Linked DNA regions of Homo sapiens: regions 1 and 3 are each reported to be linked to region 2. The links are microRNA targets in miRTarBase. Many come from high-throughput screens and were not tested one by one. Region 2 holds a microRNA gene; each other region holds the end of a gene's coding sequence.

Region 1 (5,108 bases), not on the chromosome of region 2:
AGGGTTATGGTATGATTTGCCATCCTACATTTATCAGTTCCTTTGACTATTAGTTAAAAACACTTTTCTACCTCTGGACTCTGTATACATCTCAGATTTCTTGGTTCTCGGGCACCAGCTATGGGTCCATTGTGAGAAATTTCCTACTTTTCAACTGTGAGCGCTCTCGGGGCCTTGCTTACATTTTTCAAGTTATCTGCAGGGATGGAATTAGTTTTTATTTGTTGTGTACAAAGTCCTTGCTTTCGGTGGTAGAATGAAATACTTAGAGAACAGTCCATGGATCTATTTACTTCCCATGACCTGTGAAGAGGAGTGATGTTGCCAGGACCTCTTTCCTGGGTTGTACCCAGAGCTGTTTTCTGCACGCTCTGAGCCTCCAGGGATGCCATCCCAATGGAGGCTAATTGATCAAGGCTGCCTGGAGAATTGTTTTGAGATAGATTCTGAGGCTTAGGCTGGGGATCATCAGAAAAGAAAATTATGATTGATAAGTGAAATCTGCTGTGGGCAAGGAAGGGTAAACTTGTACTTTACATGCCAGGAATTTTCGAATCTGTATGTGACTCCCAAGAAAGGCTTGACCTTGTAGCTTCGATTTTAATCTCCGCAGGTATAAGGATAATTCATTTTATGTTGAATAGACTGCTCTAAAGACAATTTAAATAATCTAATACCCCTGCCCATTTCCTAAGAGAGTTGTGTTGACTGTTTTATTCCCAAATAGGATCAAATTCAACCTGCTGTCATTGGTAGATCATTCTTCTTAACACACATGTAAGAATAAAAACTATTATTAGTTTGGTGATAAAGGCAGTGAAACAAACACCGAGAATAGGAGTAGAAAAATGTTCTGTGTGACCTTGGTTAAATTATGAGGCAAATAAGTTGAAATATCTCCAGATACATTCTCGCTCAAATATGCCAGTTTTCAATAATTTATTGAAATCATATAAATTCTGAAACAGATTTTTAAAATACTTTAATAATGGGATATCTTAATTATTTGATGGGAAGTATTTTTTAAAATTACACTCCTATTGTCCTAAATTTATGAAAAAAAATGAATGTTCAATGCAGAACACTTGCATAAATACACACACTTTTTAAAAAAGGTACCTTTATGCATTTTGCTCTGCCCTTAGGCACTCTTTTTCCAATCTAGAATATATTTCTGGATGTTTTTCAATTGACAATAAAATTACTGGAGTACACGCATGTTTTATTGTGTTTGTGTGTGTCTATGGACTGGATCACAAGGTATACCAGATGTATTTCTAGTGGGCCATGGTAAATATAGTCTGAAAGTCACCATTCTGACCATACCCCTCTCAAAATCACAGAGCCTTGGAGAAGAGAAGAACAGTTTCTTGCTGCGTACTGACTTGGCACATACCATCAGTCGCAATCAGGCCAGATCTATGTGCTGCTTTATTTTCACAGTTCAAGTAAAGCTGTGGAAAAAGTCTGAGCAGCAGTAGTAGGCAAGGTCTGTGCCACACACGGAAGCAGAACGCAAAATGCATTCCACACACATAGAAGTGTGACACAAAAGTTTGAGCATTTACCTGTATGAATGCCCCAGTCTGTGTCCACCGCTTCTTTGCTCTGAGTGATGCTCACCCATGCCCCCCTAGTCCCAATTCCTTGAACCACACATATAACTTATTACATGTCATGGTCATGTGTGACTCCAACCAGGTTGCAATAGCTGCAGTGATTTTCAGATTTTCCCTGCTTTCTAAAGAGAAGTGAGATCATAGCATGTTTTCACTAATCAGTGATTTAGGTAGACAGATGACATTTGGGGGTGACAATAACTAGATTTATAAATGCTACAAATCCGACCCATAGAAATAAGAAAGTGACTGGAGTCAGAAGGTCAAGGAGCACCTGTCACTTTCCCAGCAGGGCCCAACCTGCAGTCTCTTTTATGGCTACAAGCTGGAGGTCAGGATCTGAACTGAACAGGAGTAAGAGAAGAGGGACTTCCCAGGGGGGCTCAGATAGTTCACTGGGTGTACCTGAGATCTCACTATCTGCAGACTTGTATTGTTATAAAAATAAGTGAATACTTAACTGCCACGGTGGGATAGCACATAAAGAGAAAAACATACTTAGGTAGTTTTAAGGAATGGGAAGGGGTGAAATATAGTCATCCCCTGATATCTGCAAGGACTGGTTCCAGGACAACTTCTCCAACCCCCAACCTGCAGATACCAAAATCTGTGGATGGTATACTTAAGTCCCTGATATAAAATGATGTGGTATTTGCATATAACCTATGTACATCCTCCCGTATATGTTACATCATCTTTAGATTACTTAAAATCCCCAATACAATATAAATGCTAAGTAAACAGTTGTTGTACTGTATCGTTTAGGAAATAATGACAAGAAAAATGTCTGTCTGTGTTCAGTACAGATGCAACCATTCTTTTCTTTACAAATATTTTCAATCCATGATTGATTGACTGAATGTATGGATGTGGAACCCACTGATACAGAGGGCTGACTGTAATAAAACCAGCACCTAGCGCTGTATGAAAGGTTAGCACTCCCCTTGACAAGAATGGAAGAGGCCCTCGGGCCTGACAACACACATATGGTTAAAACTAGCACCTAACTCCTCAGTAGCCTGGCAGGAACTGGGAATGGTGGCCTATGTTTTAAGAGAACCCCTTCTGTGGGCCCCCAATGGCTACAGCCTGATACTCAGGTGATGGTGTGAGATAAGCCTCAGTGCTTTTTTTTATCCCCTGTCCCCCAATATTTACTAAGCTTCAGGAAACTATATTCTTTTTTGATAAGTATCCATTTATTAACACTGGTAACATTTTCAGGGCACACAGAACATGCATTCTTTGGTAGCAAAATTTTAAAATCACAGATATATTTCTTTTATATATTATGAATATATTTCTAGTAAGGAATATATAACTAGTCTTCAGAAACTGAAGATGGAAACATAGCTAAGCCTCAACTTCCGGTCAAGCAGAAAGTAATGAAAAGTGCCGAAAATGCCACAGTCACATGGGCCACTGCTCCTTAAATGCCACAATCACGCGGGCCACTGCTCCTTTCATTCTCTACAGACAACCTGAGTCTCACACTGTCATAGCACCAAGAAGAAAACAGTTACTTTCACTTTTCTTATAGCAACATAGGGATTTGTGTACATAAAACATGTTGGACAGGTTCTCCTTCAATCATGGTTTGTATGTCAACAGTTGGTTTCATAAAACAGAGAAAGGTGGAAAGAAGATAGAAGATGGTCTCTTTACAAAAGAAAGGTGAATACATTTCGATGCACCAGGTTGTTTAGGCTAAGTCAGTAACTGTGTGTATTATCAGCCCTATGACTGCTAAGTGTCAATATTTAGAATTTCAGTGTGGGAAAGAACCTCAGACACCATCAGTCCAACCGCTTCCATTTTACAGCTAAGGAAAAGGGTCCGGAAACTTAGGTGAATATCAGACTGGGATGAGAACGCAGGCTTTGGAGTTAGGCTCCTTAGTATATGAAGTTCATGTATCCCCATAGACAAACTCATTTTCTGGTAATATGAATACACTTCTGGATGAACCAACAGTTTTTCAGTCTAAGGTATGTCAGAAACGAATTCAATTTTTATGCTTAAGTTTCCTCTGCACAGCTTTCTCCATTTAGGTTGTGATGATGATGCAGACTGTTACCCCCTCTAGACTTTTGCATTCTTACTTTTGAATTTGGGGGTTAATGTGTGAGTAGGGCTCCACGAATCATCATTTATCTTTCACATCATTTCTCTTTCCACCTATTGCTAACTACCTATTTTTAAATTTAACAATTAGGTCAATGATTCTTGATTTATTTAAGACAATACCAAAGACAGTAATAAGGTCAGAGTGACCTGGTGCACTTCTAACACCCCAATCTGAAAGGAATTTTTTTTCAGTATAAGATAATATATATCATATACAGAAAACTAATACTAAAAGGTACTCAGAGGTAGCCCTTGTTGTTAGACATTTAAGGATGTTCTAGACTCCAAGAGGAACCTCAACAGTTTTCTCTGATTCAAATTAAAAACAATTTTCTAGGATAAATGGAATGATTAATAATGTAAGAAGAATAATCAGTACTGAATTGTATAGTGGAATGATTCCCATTAGGTTCCAACCGAATATAATAGAGCTTATTTGCTTTCTTAGCATGTATCTTTCCCACTACTATAAAATTGAGATCTGTCATTTATAATGTTACCTGTATTATCTAAACACTAACATCTTTAAACCCAGTGGGCTTCCCCTAGAGAGGTTTAGATTCTTGCAAACCCAGGTGAATCGTTCTTGTTGAGCAATGAACTGTTGAGAAATGAGATAAGGCAGAGGCACACTTATGGATGCCAGTCAACAGGTTAGCTTTTGATGGCCATGGTCCAGAGGAGTGGGTGGTCAGTTTCCACAGTCACAACACCAGACCCGTCGTAGGTATTGGAAGTACTGACCAATGTTCCAAAAGCAAGCACATCATTTGCTGTAAGAAAATAAGGGAAAAAAATTAGTAACTATTTTTTTTCTTCCTCCAGTGTAGATTAACTTTGTCACTTACCAAAAAGCAAGTACACACTTTGATAAAAATATATATAAATGTGGGATAGGTGAAATATATGATGTATGGCTTTAAAATGGGTAAGTTCTATAACTTGCTGTAAACATTCTTCCTGGAATTGGTTATTGACCATTTTGGGTTATATATCATTCTCAATATTAAATTTTATTAGAATCTTTTCTTTTTCTTTACTAATTATAAAACCAAAACCTGTATTTGTAATGTGCTACTTACTTCCTTCCCTGGGTACAATTTTAGTTTCTCTTGATAATTCAGAATTAAAATTTAATATGTTATTACACTCTACAGAATGTAGTTTTAGCTTCAAGTAGAAATGATATGAGACAGATAGAAAATTACCTAAAAAAATGCATGTGATTTTGGTTACTGTTTTCTCATAAAGTAAGAAAAGCCAAAGTGAATACAGCTTACATTCTGTAAAATTAATAGAAACTCAAAGGTCAAAGCCGACTTTCAAATGTGTAATCTTGAGCAAGTCACTTAAGCTCAGCCA
Region 2 (5,265 bases):
AGGTTAGCTCACCCTATTCAGCTGGAGCTGTTTTGGGTATTGGACAACACATGAAGAAAGGATCTGCTAGTATAATAAGTTAGCAGTTTAAAACTAGTATCCAGGTTTGTGCTGAAAGCTGTTTCTCTTTCCTTAGTGTTTGGTGCTGGCACCAACTCGGGAACTGGCCCAACAGGTGCAGCAAGTAGCTGCTGAATATTGTAGAGCATGTCGCTTGAAGTCTACTTGTATCTACGGTGGTGCTCCTAAGGGACCACAAATACGTGATTTGGAGAGAGGTATGTAATGAAAAGGGTTTTATTTGTCATTGGTGCTAAATATCCTAGGTATTGTAGTTACACTTACGTATTTAATTAAAGGTGTGGAAATCTGTATTGCAACACCTGGAAGACTGATTGACTTTTTAGAGTGTGGAAAAACCAATCTGAGAAGAACAACCTACCTTGTCCTTGATGAAGCAGATAGAATGCTTGATATGGGCTTTGAACCCCAAATAAGGAAGATTGTGGATCAAATAAGAGTAAGTGTCCTTTGAAATATGTGATCAAACTGAATTGTGTTTTCACTCTTAAGAGTCTGATACTAATTTTTCCCCCCAAAATCCATTAGCCTGATAGGCAAACTCTAATGTGGAGTGCGACTTGGCCAAAAGAAGTAAGACAGCTTGCTGAAGATTTCCTGAAAGACTATATTCATATAAACATTGGTGCACTTGAACTGAGTGCAAACCACAACATTCTTCAGATTGTGGATGTGTGTCATGACGTAGAAAAGGATGAAAAGTAAGTTTTATTAACTCTGTTATATTTGCTTCCTAACAACTTTGCTGTAAAATTGAGGGATCATTGTTTGGTGAGTTGTTTTAGGTTATTTCAGTTGGTGTGATTTCATTTAGTTAGCCTACTAATCCTGAAAATTTCTTGAATCCTTCAAATAATGGCTGTCACCATTTATAGCTTTCCTATAGAAGGAATTCATGTGTCCCCTGGTTGACTTAAGGACCAAGGGTCGAACTGCTCGATAAGTGGATTAGCAGGCGTTTCCTCTTTGACTTCCAGCCATGTAAATTGAACTTAATGTTTTGCTGACCATAAATGTGTGGCCCTAGCAATGGTCTTTTAAAACTCAGGATTTTTCCTTTCTCTCTCCTATTATTAGACTTATTCGTCTAATGGAAGAGATCATGAGTGAGAAGGAGAATAAAACCATTGTTTTTGTGGAAACCAAAAGAAGATGTGATGAGCTTACCAGAAAAATGAGGAGAGATGGGTATGTGTGAGCTCCTCCATTGAAGCAGATTGATTAAAACAGCTTAGGAAAGGGCAAACTTGGATCACGAGCAGTGGATTTTTTTCATATCTGATAGTGAATTTAACTTTTTCATTTCTGGCGAAATTAAAGAGATCTGTGACCAAAAGTGGTCAAGCACTGGAGTCTGAGGTTTTCAATGTGAGTTTAATAACACAACTTGTCTTTTAACTTAGGTGGCCTGCCATGGGTATCCATGGTGACAAGAGTCAACAAGAGCGTGACTGGGTTCTAAATGGTAAATATTTCAAATGAAGTATTTTTCCCCCTTACTTAACCTAGCTAGAATTCTGCTCAGATAATTGATCATGTATATGCCTTCCTTTGTAGAATTCAAACATGGAAAAGCTCCTATTCTGATTGCTACAGATGTGGCCTCCAGAGGGCTAGGTTAGTACAAACTCGCATTCATGGCTTGGTTTCCCAGAAGATCTCCATTTAACTTTTTTAAAGAAAGTTTATTGCTTTCTTTAACCTGCATTTTTTCTAAGTTTTTTTTCACATAAAGGTGCTGTCTTTGTGGCAAGGCCTAGGCATGACAATCGGAGGACTCGAGGGGGATGGAGGACTAGTGATCGGCTGGCTGCTTCCAGTCGATTAGAGAGGTGAAAAAGCTGAACGTGTGCCAGTAATCTTCAAAAGGCAGAACATATCACCTCTGCCCCGTAAACTGTTCTCTCCGAGGGAAAAAATGGAAGTTATCCTCACAGTTCACTGCCGTGGTATTTCTTCTGTCCCATGCTTTGCATGACTGCCATGGTACAGCCTTGTTTCAAACTGTTCACTGTGATCTGTGGGTCTTTGAGTTTCAGTGAGTTTGCTGAAATGTCGAAGAAGTAGTTCCAAACTTCAATGTTCAATGAAATTTTTGTTCAAGTTTGAAATGGAGAGAGCAGCTTTAAAAGGTACTAAGCCTTTTACAAATTGGTGAGTACTGGCACATGAGATCTAGAGCAGGAGCAACTTCTCACACATAGTAAGTGGGAAAAGAAAGTGCTTTGAAAGTTCCTCCCTCACCTACACAGTAGTCGTCATGTCGAGACCTGCCAGAGAGAGACACATTCTCAAGTGAATCCTGGCTTCTTGGAAGCGCTTGCCTAGACGAGACACAGTGCATAAAAACAACTTTTGGGGGACAGGTATGTTTTCTTGCAGCTGCGGTTGTAAGGTCTTGGCAAGACAAGCAGTGTGGCCAGAATTTTGAACTTCTGATGAATGTGTAATGCAAAGGACCTTGTACATTTTTTTGTTTCAAGGTCCTCAAAATGAGCACATGAAGAGGTTGCTGTGAAACTTTAAGTGGCCCTACTGCGCAGAAGCATTCAGATGTCACTTGATGATCTGTAAGGGAACTTGCTGATTTGGGAATGTGCTTAGGGAACACACATTCCTTTTGACAGGGTCTGTCACTGGGTGGGTGATGAATTATACAGATGACATGTGCTTTTTTTTCTTTTTTCAACCTCAATGGTATTCCTACAGGAAATGGATAACCATTTTAACTGTATTTTTTGCAGCCCGTACCTTCTTGGGAATACAATTGTCTAACTTTTTATTTTTGGTCTGGCTGTTGTGGTGTGCAAAACTCCGTACATTGCTATTTTGCCACACTGCAACACCTTACAGATGTGGAAGATGTGAAATTTGTCATCAATTATGACTACCCTAACTCCTCAGAGGATTATATTCATCGAATTGGAAGAACTGCTCGCAGTACCAAAACAGGCACAGCATACACTTTCTTTACACCTAATAACATAAAGCAAGTGAGCGACCTTATCTCTGTGCTTCGTGAAGCTAATCAAGCAATTAATCCCAAGTTGCTTCAGTTGGTCGAAGACAGAGGTTCAGGTAAGGATGACTGATAGGAAATGTTGGTAGTTACGAGTCACATCGTTGTCTACAAATCCATTTAAATGGTATTGGAGGGTGAGTAAAACCTTGAATGTGAAAACTTAAGCTGAAAAATTGTAAAAACATTTCACGCCTACCATGAATAGATCTGTTTCTTTCTGTCCACAATGATTTGTGTCATAGACATAATTGATCAATTTGCAATTGTTTTCTTGACAGGTCGTTCCAGGGGTAGAGGAGGCATGAAGGATGACCGTCGGGACAGATACTCTGCGGGCAAAAGGGGTGGATTTAATACCTTTAGAGACAGGGAAAATTATGACAGAGGTTACTCTAGCCTGCTTAAAAGAGATTTTGGGGCAAAAACTCAGAATGGTGTTTACAGTGCTGCAAATTACACCAATGGGAGCTTTGGAAGTAATTTTGTGTCTGCTGGTATACAGACCAGTTTTAGGACTGGTAATCCAACAGGGACTTACCAGAATGGTTATGATAGCACTCAGCAATACGGAAGTAATGTTCCAAATATGCACAATGGTATGAACCAACAGGCATATGCATATCCTGCTACTGCAGCTGCACCTATGATTGGTTATCCAATGCCAACAGGATATTCCCAATAAGACTTTAGAAGTATATGTAAATGTCTGTTTTTCATAATTGCTCTTTATATTGTGTGTTATCTGACAAGATAGTTATTTAAGAAACATGGGAATTGCAGAAATGACTGCAGTGCAGCAGTAATTATGGTGCACTTTTTCGCTATTTAAGTTGGATATTTCTCTACATTCCTGAAACAATTTTTAGGTTTTTTTTGTACTAGAAAATGCAGGCAGTGTTTTCACAAAAGTAAATGTACAGTGATTTGAAATACAATAAATGAAGGCAATGCATGGCCTTCCAATAAAAAATATTTGAAGACTGAATTAAGTGGAAATTGTACTTTATTTTATATAATGTCATGTAAAACTTTGCTTAAGATGGTCTGGTTTTTTTTTTGTTTTTGTTTGGTTTTTTTTTTCCATGAAAACAAATGACTGTTCCTTTTTATTTAATTTGGGAGGCAGGGGGAATCAGAAGGCCCTTCTTTATAATGAGCTATTCATATTGCAGGAGTCAGAATGAATTGATACAGGTGAATTTTTAGTTACAGGCTAAATTGCATAAAAGCTTTGTCAGCTTCCAGCATCAGGGGAGTCATTTAATAGCCTTTTTCCTTATTTGCTAGTATGGTTAAATGAGAAAATAGTAAAATAGATACAAAGTCATCTATATAGTGTGAGAACGTGGGTGACTTTTTCAAAGTTTATAATTTAAAAAGCTCCAAATAACTGGCTTTTTCAAGAGACTTATACTCATGCTCTTGGCTATACTGTGAATTACTGAAATGTTGAACAAACCTGTGAAAGACATACATTAGCCCTTTAAGATGGCCAGGAGCTAAGCTTGAGTCTCCTTTACTGAATTTCGTTCTTAGTGCAGGTTACTTGTAGATTCTAGTCTTCACAGGCTCCCTGGGGCTCTTAACTAGTCACACTGGGAGTCATGAATGTCTTTCCAATAATTCAGGGAATTCTAGAGATCCTCAAACTGTAAGGTCTATTCATACTCAACACAAGGAAAAAACCTCATTAAAATTAATGACTAATCAGGAGGCAACGTAACCAAAAGCACAGTGAATGAAAGTTTTCATGGTAGGTTCAACATGGGTTTATTGCTAGAAAGATCCAGGGGATAGCTTTAGGTTTAACTTCGGCTCACCAACGTAACTTTCTAATCATTTATTTCAGTAATAGCTAGAAGTGGGTCTGAATGTTTTCCCAGAGTCTGATACGTGTTTTTTTTTGCCAGAAGAGAGGTCTTCAGGAGACTTCATTTAAATTCTGATTATTAAACTGAGGCTTTAATTGATGTTAATGCCTTATGTCAAATGTAAAGTTAGAATTTGCTAGGGCTGGGATAGGGAGTGATATTTCTAGGACTTAGACATTGAAAACTAATTCAGCCTGTAGTAACCTGGATGGTTTTCAATGGCATGGTTAGTCAAATTCATGGTTTTAAACTTAGAAGCAGCTTTCGGGGGAGAGGGTAGGTTGGAGCATT
Region 3 (5,108 bases), not on the chromosome of region 2:
CAGATCATTTTCCAGTACAAGCAGAACCAAAAATTCTTGAGGAAAACTAAGAGATTCAGGAGTTGAATGTTTTAATAAAAAGAGGTTTCACTCTCCCTGGTTCCTCATTCCCCTTTATGTGAAGATAAGTTACAAACATCATGAGGTGTTAATATGGTAGTTCCTATCATTTTAATAACCAAATTAAAAATCTGAAAATAGAACCAAACTATGGAAAAAATTATTCAGTCTATTTTTCAAACACCCTATACCTGCTTCAATGTTTAACCACATGCAAAGTGCATGCCGTTGCAGCATCTTACCTTGACTCTCTGATCTCTGCAAAGTAATAACCAGCAGTGAAGTTTTGTTGCCAGGAGTAAAGGTGCCCAGAACAATAAGTCTTTGGCCCTCTTTGAAATCTCAGGTGGGGTTACAGGAAAGCTAATGCAAAGCTATTTTTATCAACATCCAACAATTATCCAAGGTTACTTGCAAAACTTCTTGGGAGTAGTTTTGCAAGTAACCTTGCAAGGATACAGCTCTTGCTTTGAAAACTCAGACATCTTATAAAGATAAGACTTGTTAACAAAATAGAATCCACTTTCACATTTAAAAGGTAACTTGGAAATTGCTCCAGGTACCACCTAATTAACTGAAGCAGATAGGGACAAAGAAAAAAAAAAAAAAACCTCAGAAGATATCATTGTTTAAATACACTCTATTTTATTTTGTCTTAAAATAGTTTAACCTTTATGCTACAGACTTATTTCAAAAAACAGAAAATCTTATCTTGCACCAAAAAATATATATATAACACTCTGTTTTATTATTTTTTCTCCAAAGACCATTAAATACTAAAGGGAAACAAAAACGAAATAATGAATGTAAAGAACCAAATTTTGTTTTAAAAACTAGAGTTGCACATTTGAAAACATTAATTCTAAGCAATGATTTGTCATCACTGCATCAAGTCCACGCTCACACTCCAGCAACAGCAGATCCATTAACTGCCAAGTGCATTGGTTCCTAGCCATACAATGGCTAACATTTCATTTTCACGGTAAGAGGAGCAAAAGGCTTCAATGGCCTCTGTACTCTTTAAGAAACAAAACAACAACAAAAATATTTCCTAGTTATCCAGTGATTTTTTTTTAAGATCACTACCTTTTAAAATTTGTTAAGAGAATAAGAAGTAAGTAGTGTTTTAAATAAAATGAAAAAATACAACAGCATCAGACTAAAATACGTGATTATTTTAAACAAACAGTGCACAATCTGAGGAAGTTTGGTTAGGGCACAATCATTTTTATATCTACATGGAAGTCACATCATACACATATTGGAGAACAGGGATTGGGGAGCTTGCTTTGCCTTAAAAAAGTTTAAAACTAAAAGACAAAATAGTGTCCCCAGCTTTTTCAAAAACCTTTGTGACAGTATAAAAAGCAGGTAACAAACTTAGTTTTAAGTTAGTTATGGTGCTAATCTGCTAAAAGTAAAGATGAACAAATGACTACATTAGTAAACCAGACAATTCATATTCATAATTGATAATAAAAGCAAAGTTTATGGGATGTTTGATTGCCAAGAATAAACTGAATGAAATAAATTGAATAAAAAAGAATGCATTATTCATTCAGTCTGGCCCCTACCATCAAAATGAAAAGACAATTACTGGAGAGCAGCAATTACAGGTTACATGGCAGTCATGATGATGCAACAGCTAGGTCACTGCTCTGTTTTTCACAAATTGGAGGGGGTGGAAACTTAACCAAGTCAGTGGCATAAACCAATCTGTGACCCACATGTACCATTTTAGCAGAGAGATTACTCTGAAGACAATGTCCTGTGAAGCATAAAGAACTACTTATGCTACCAAATGTAAAACTTTGATTAAGAAAAACCCCTTTAAAAGAAACTTCAAATGTCACAGGAGCTGTATACCACGGAATTGTATCATTAATACCTTGCCTGAAACCACACTCTCCACTCTTCTGGAAACAGCAATGAAAAGAGAGTTGAAACACAGTCTCTCTATAGTTATTAGGGGAAATGACCCAACCTAGTAGGGGAGAGCTGTCTATCTCTACCATCCCTTCCCCTCCCCCTCTGCATCTTAATATCCAAATCTCCGTTCTGGTCCATTAAGTCAGGCAGTTGGGAGCTGGACTAGGAATAAGTGAGGCAAAAGTGCAAGCTGACATAAAGGCAAAGGGCCAGAGAAGAGACTGGTTACAGCTCCACTCTGTTCCTAATCCACAGTGCACACAGCACGCCAACTCTGTAGAGGATGACTATATTAGGGACTATGAAGAAAATATGTCACACGGGAAATCACCTGCTGTGTGGAATTGGGAAAAAAAATATGTGGTTAACATAAGAACAGGTCATGCAAAAACATTCATTAAAATGGGCCTCTGCCCTGACAGTGGGGGAAAAAATAAGCTGCAAAAACTTCAAGTCACATCATCCACTCTATTCTCTTCTCTATGAATTTCCTGGAAAACACAGACCAGAAATTGTACATTTCTGCTTTGTCTAGTATTTTAATTCAAGTCAAAAACTATGTGTAACAGTAAAATTCAATAAATTAATCCTAAAGTAAAATGTGAAGGTCCAAGGATACACCAGTAGTGAATCTTCAGAAGGTCCTACTTTGCTCTGGCCTCTGGGTCTTTGGTTTTTGTCTAGAATTGTGGCCATGTGAGAGACTGATATATGAGTTGCTAAAGCTGGAGGTTCATGATCTTAAAAGCCTTATCTAACAAAAGCAGAAAATAAAAATAAAAAAAATAAAAGCTGATGAAGGACAGAGGCCAGATCAAATGAGATGCTATCAGAGAAGATCAAAGAACATATGCACAAATACATTCCTGTGGAAGAAGGAACATACAGGAGAACTAATGCAACAAGAAGCGTAAAGGAATAAACTTGTCTTTACAAAAAAAAAAAAAAAAGAAGAAGATGAAGAAGAAGAAGAAGAACAGGCTGGGCAGGTGGAGGCAGGCAGACACTGATGCATGTGTATGTGCGGTGTGTGTCATTCATCTCAGCAGCCCCCAGAGCACCCACCCCTCACAGTGCCTTATGCAGAGCAGGCACTTGGTAAATTTGTTTGCTGAATGAAAACTGAAAATGGTAATTCTCATACTCTTAATGATAAGAAGAGCCACCAGGGGATTTGGAGAGACAGGCAAAGGGCCATAGCAACGGTAACAATGGAAACAAAAACAAAAACAAAACAAACAAAAACCATGAAAAACAAAAGGTGAAGTCTTCTAAGCCAATATTACTTCACTCCCCCTGTGCAGAGTACATAGTGTTCTAACTCTAGGTATTGCTTTTAAAAGAATTCACTAGTAACTACAACATATTATAAGAAAGAAGGTAGTAACTAATGCCACAAAATTCCAATGCTGGCATTTCCTGAATTCCCTGAAGCTCCTGCTACCCTTTGCTAATCCTTTTAGACTCTGTAAAACTTACCAATGACATTAACGTGCTTTGCATCTGATTTCTTATGGTACATTCTGATTCTTCTTATGGTATTTTTTTTTAGAAGGTAGAGGAGAAAAATACCCAAATACAGCATCAGGTCCACTTCATCTCGGATGTTAAACAGTTGTTGCTACATACTCTTTATACAGAGACCAGCTATGAAAGACGGCACTTTCCTCTCGGATTTGCAAGTGCCTGTAGCCTCAGAGGCCACATAACTTTTCATATTCTTCCCAACAGGTTTCTATGTTCACCCGTTATTTGACTAAACCAGAAAAAAAGGCGAGGGAGAGAGATTTTTCCCACTGAACTCTTAATACCTTCAGATGCCCAGAACACCTCATGGTGGGTATCTATCTGAAATGCCTCTGTCTCAAAGGAGACATTTTGCAAAGAGTTATTAATTATTGCAACAAGGAGAACAACTAGGTCACCTTAGTAGTATTTATAAACACAAAGGGACATGTCAATTATCTGTGCTGTGGGAAGTCAACAGGAGCAAACTCAAGAAAGAAGGCAGAAGACTTAAAATAAAAGAAAATATAATTTTAATACTTCTGTCTTCTATTTTTAAGGACAAGTTTTTAAATGCACATGCCCTACTAGGTGCCAATAAGGACCTGACTGATATGTGTGCGAATGCCCTAAGATGGGAGTGCCAATGGGGTGGGCAGATAGTGGTCAAGTCTAGATATTAATTTCATTATACAGAAAAATAAATACAAGATTCAAAAACTGAAACCCATTTTGCCTGGCAATTAAAATATTATTCTAAAAGGAAGGCAGAGTTTCCTAAGATTAAAAGTCACCAAGTAAAATAAAGTTGTCTAATAAAATTCATCATTCTATATTCCTACTGAGGGAAAGAAGAAATTCTTTTCTCTGTGATGTTATTTTCCTAAGTGACTTCTTTTAATTAAAAAAAGGGGGGAAGAGGAGGGAATTTTCCATGAGTTTGAATCCTACAAATGCCACAAACAGCTTCTGAAGCTGAAGCTATGACAATGAACTTCCATGTCACAAAGAGGATGAGGAAGTGGAAGGGAACAGTGCAGAGGAAACACAGTGACATTGTATTACAGTAGGTATTTACGCCTGCTATCCTCATCCAAGGTAAGGTCAACAACTTCTGCTGGTGAAGCCCAAGTCTGCTGGGGAGTCACAGCAGTCCATGACTGTGTTTGCCTGGTGCTAACATACTGCGTGCCCGAGCCATGCTTCCATGAAGAAACACTCTGAATCACACCACCTCGAGGATGAACACACCTGCAATTGAGATGAAGAACAAAAGCATGGTTAATTCCACCACAGGAAAAACAGAAGACAATATGACCTCAGTTGTACTTATCAACATTTTTACTAAGATAAACCTAGTATGCAAGTTCATAAAACCCACAATCAATATCCTTCCCTCCATCTCTGTCTCCCTCTCTCCCTACCCCACCACACCCCACTTGGTCCCTCTCTCAGTTTAGCCTTAAAAAGGCCAAGGGTCTTATCTCAGCCAGAAACTCCTGAGTTGTGTCACTGACCATGGGTGACAGGATGTTTCTCTGGACTCATTTACACCTCTGGGATCTTCATGATAGGGCAACACATAAATCCAGAACAAAGTTAAGATGCCCAAA

What was found. Region 2 holds the annotated microRNA hsa-miR-3064-3p (UUGCCACACUGCAACACCUUACA, at 2,911-2,933, shown strand). A microRNA usually pairs through its seed, bases 2 to 8, with sites in the 3' UTR of a target mRNA and lowers its output. Matches are read on the target gene's strand: a 7mer-m8 pairs with bases 2 to 8, a 7mer-A1 pairs with bases 2 to 7 and ends in A, and an 8mer does both.
Region 1: miRTarBase lists TPK1 as a target of hsa-miR-3064-3p. Seed matches in the 3' UTR shown: 7mer-m8 at 3,054-3,060 and 7mer-m8 at 3,022-3,028.
Region 3: the mRNA of ARK2N is a reported target of hsa-miR-3064-3p. Seed matches in the 3' UTR shown: 7mer-m8 at 4,450-4,456 and 7mer-m8 at 3,381-3,387.

What each region holds. Positions count from the first base shown.
Region 1 is chr7:144,449,145-144,454,252 of GRCh38, forward strand. It overlaps TPK1 (thiamin pyrophosphokinase 1), which reads right to left. Exons shown (of 9, transcript NM_022445.4): 9 at 2,797-4,519. The coding sequence ends at 4,401. It also overlaps the pseudogene RNU6ATAC40P. Among named protein-coding and RNA genes, the nearest start is that of NOBOX, 48 kb to the left of the region's middle.
Region 2 is chr17:64,498,443-64,503,707 of GRCh38, reverse strand. It overlaps MIR3064 (microRNA 3064), which reads left to right and starts at 2,869; the gene lies at 2,869-2,934. DDX5 (DEAD-box helicase 5) reads left to right here. Exons shown (of 13, transcript NM_004396.5): 6 at 137-278; 7 at 360-520; 8 at 610-782; 9 at 1,159-1,269; 10 at 1,485-1,546; 11 at 1,639-1,698; 12 at 2,935-3,159; 13 at 3,382-5,265. The coding sequence ends at 3,785. MIR5047 (microRNA 5047) reads left to right here and starts at 2,395; the gene lies at 2,395-2,494.
Region 3 is chr18:46,262,567-46,267,674 of GRCh38, reverse strand. It overlaps ARK2N (arkadia (RNF111) N-terminal like PKA signaling regulator 2N), which reads right to left. Exons shown (of 5, transcript NM_145055.5): 5 at 683-4,746. The coding sequence ends at 4,557. Among named protein-coding and RNA genes, the nearest start is that of ARK2C, 69 kb to the left of the region's middle.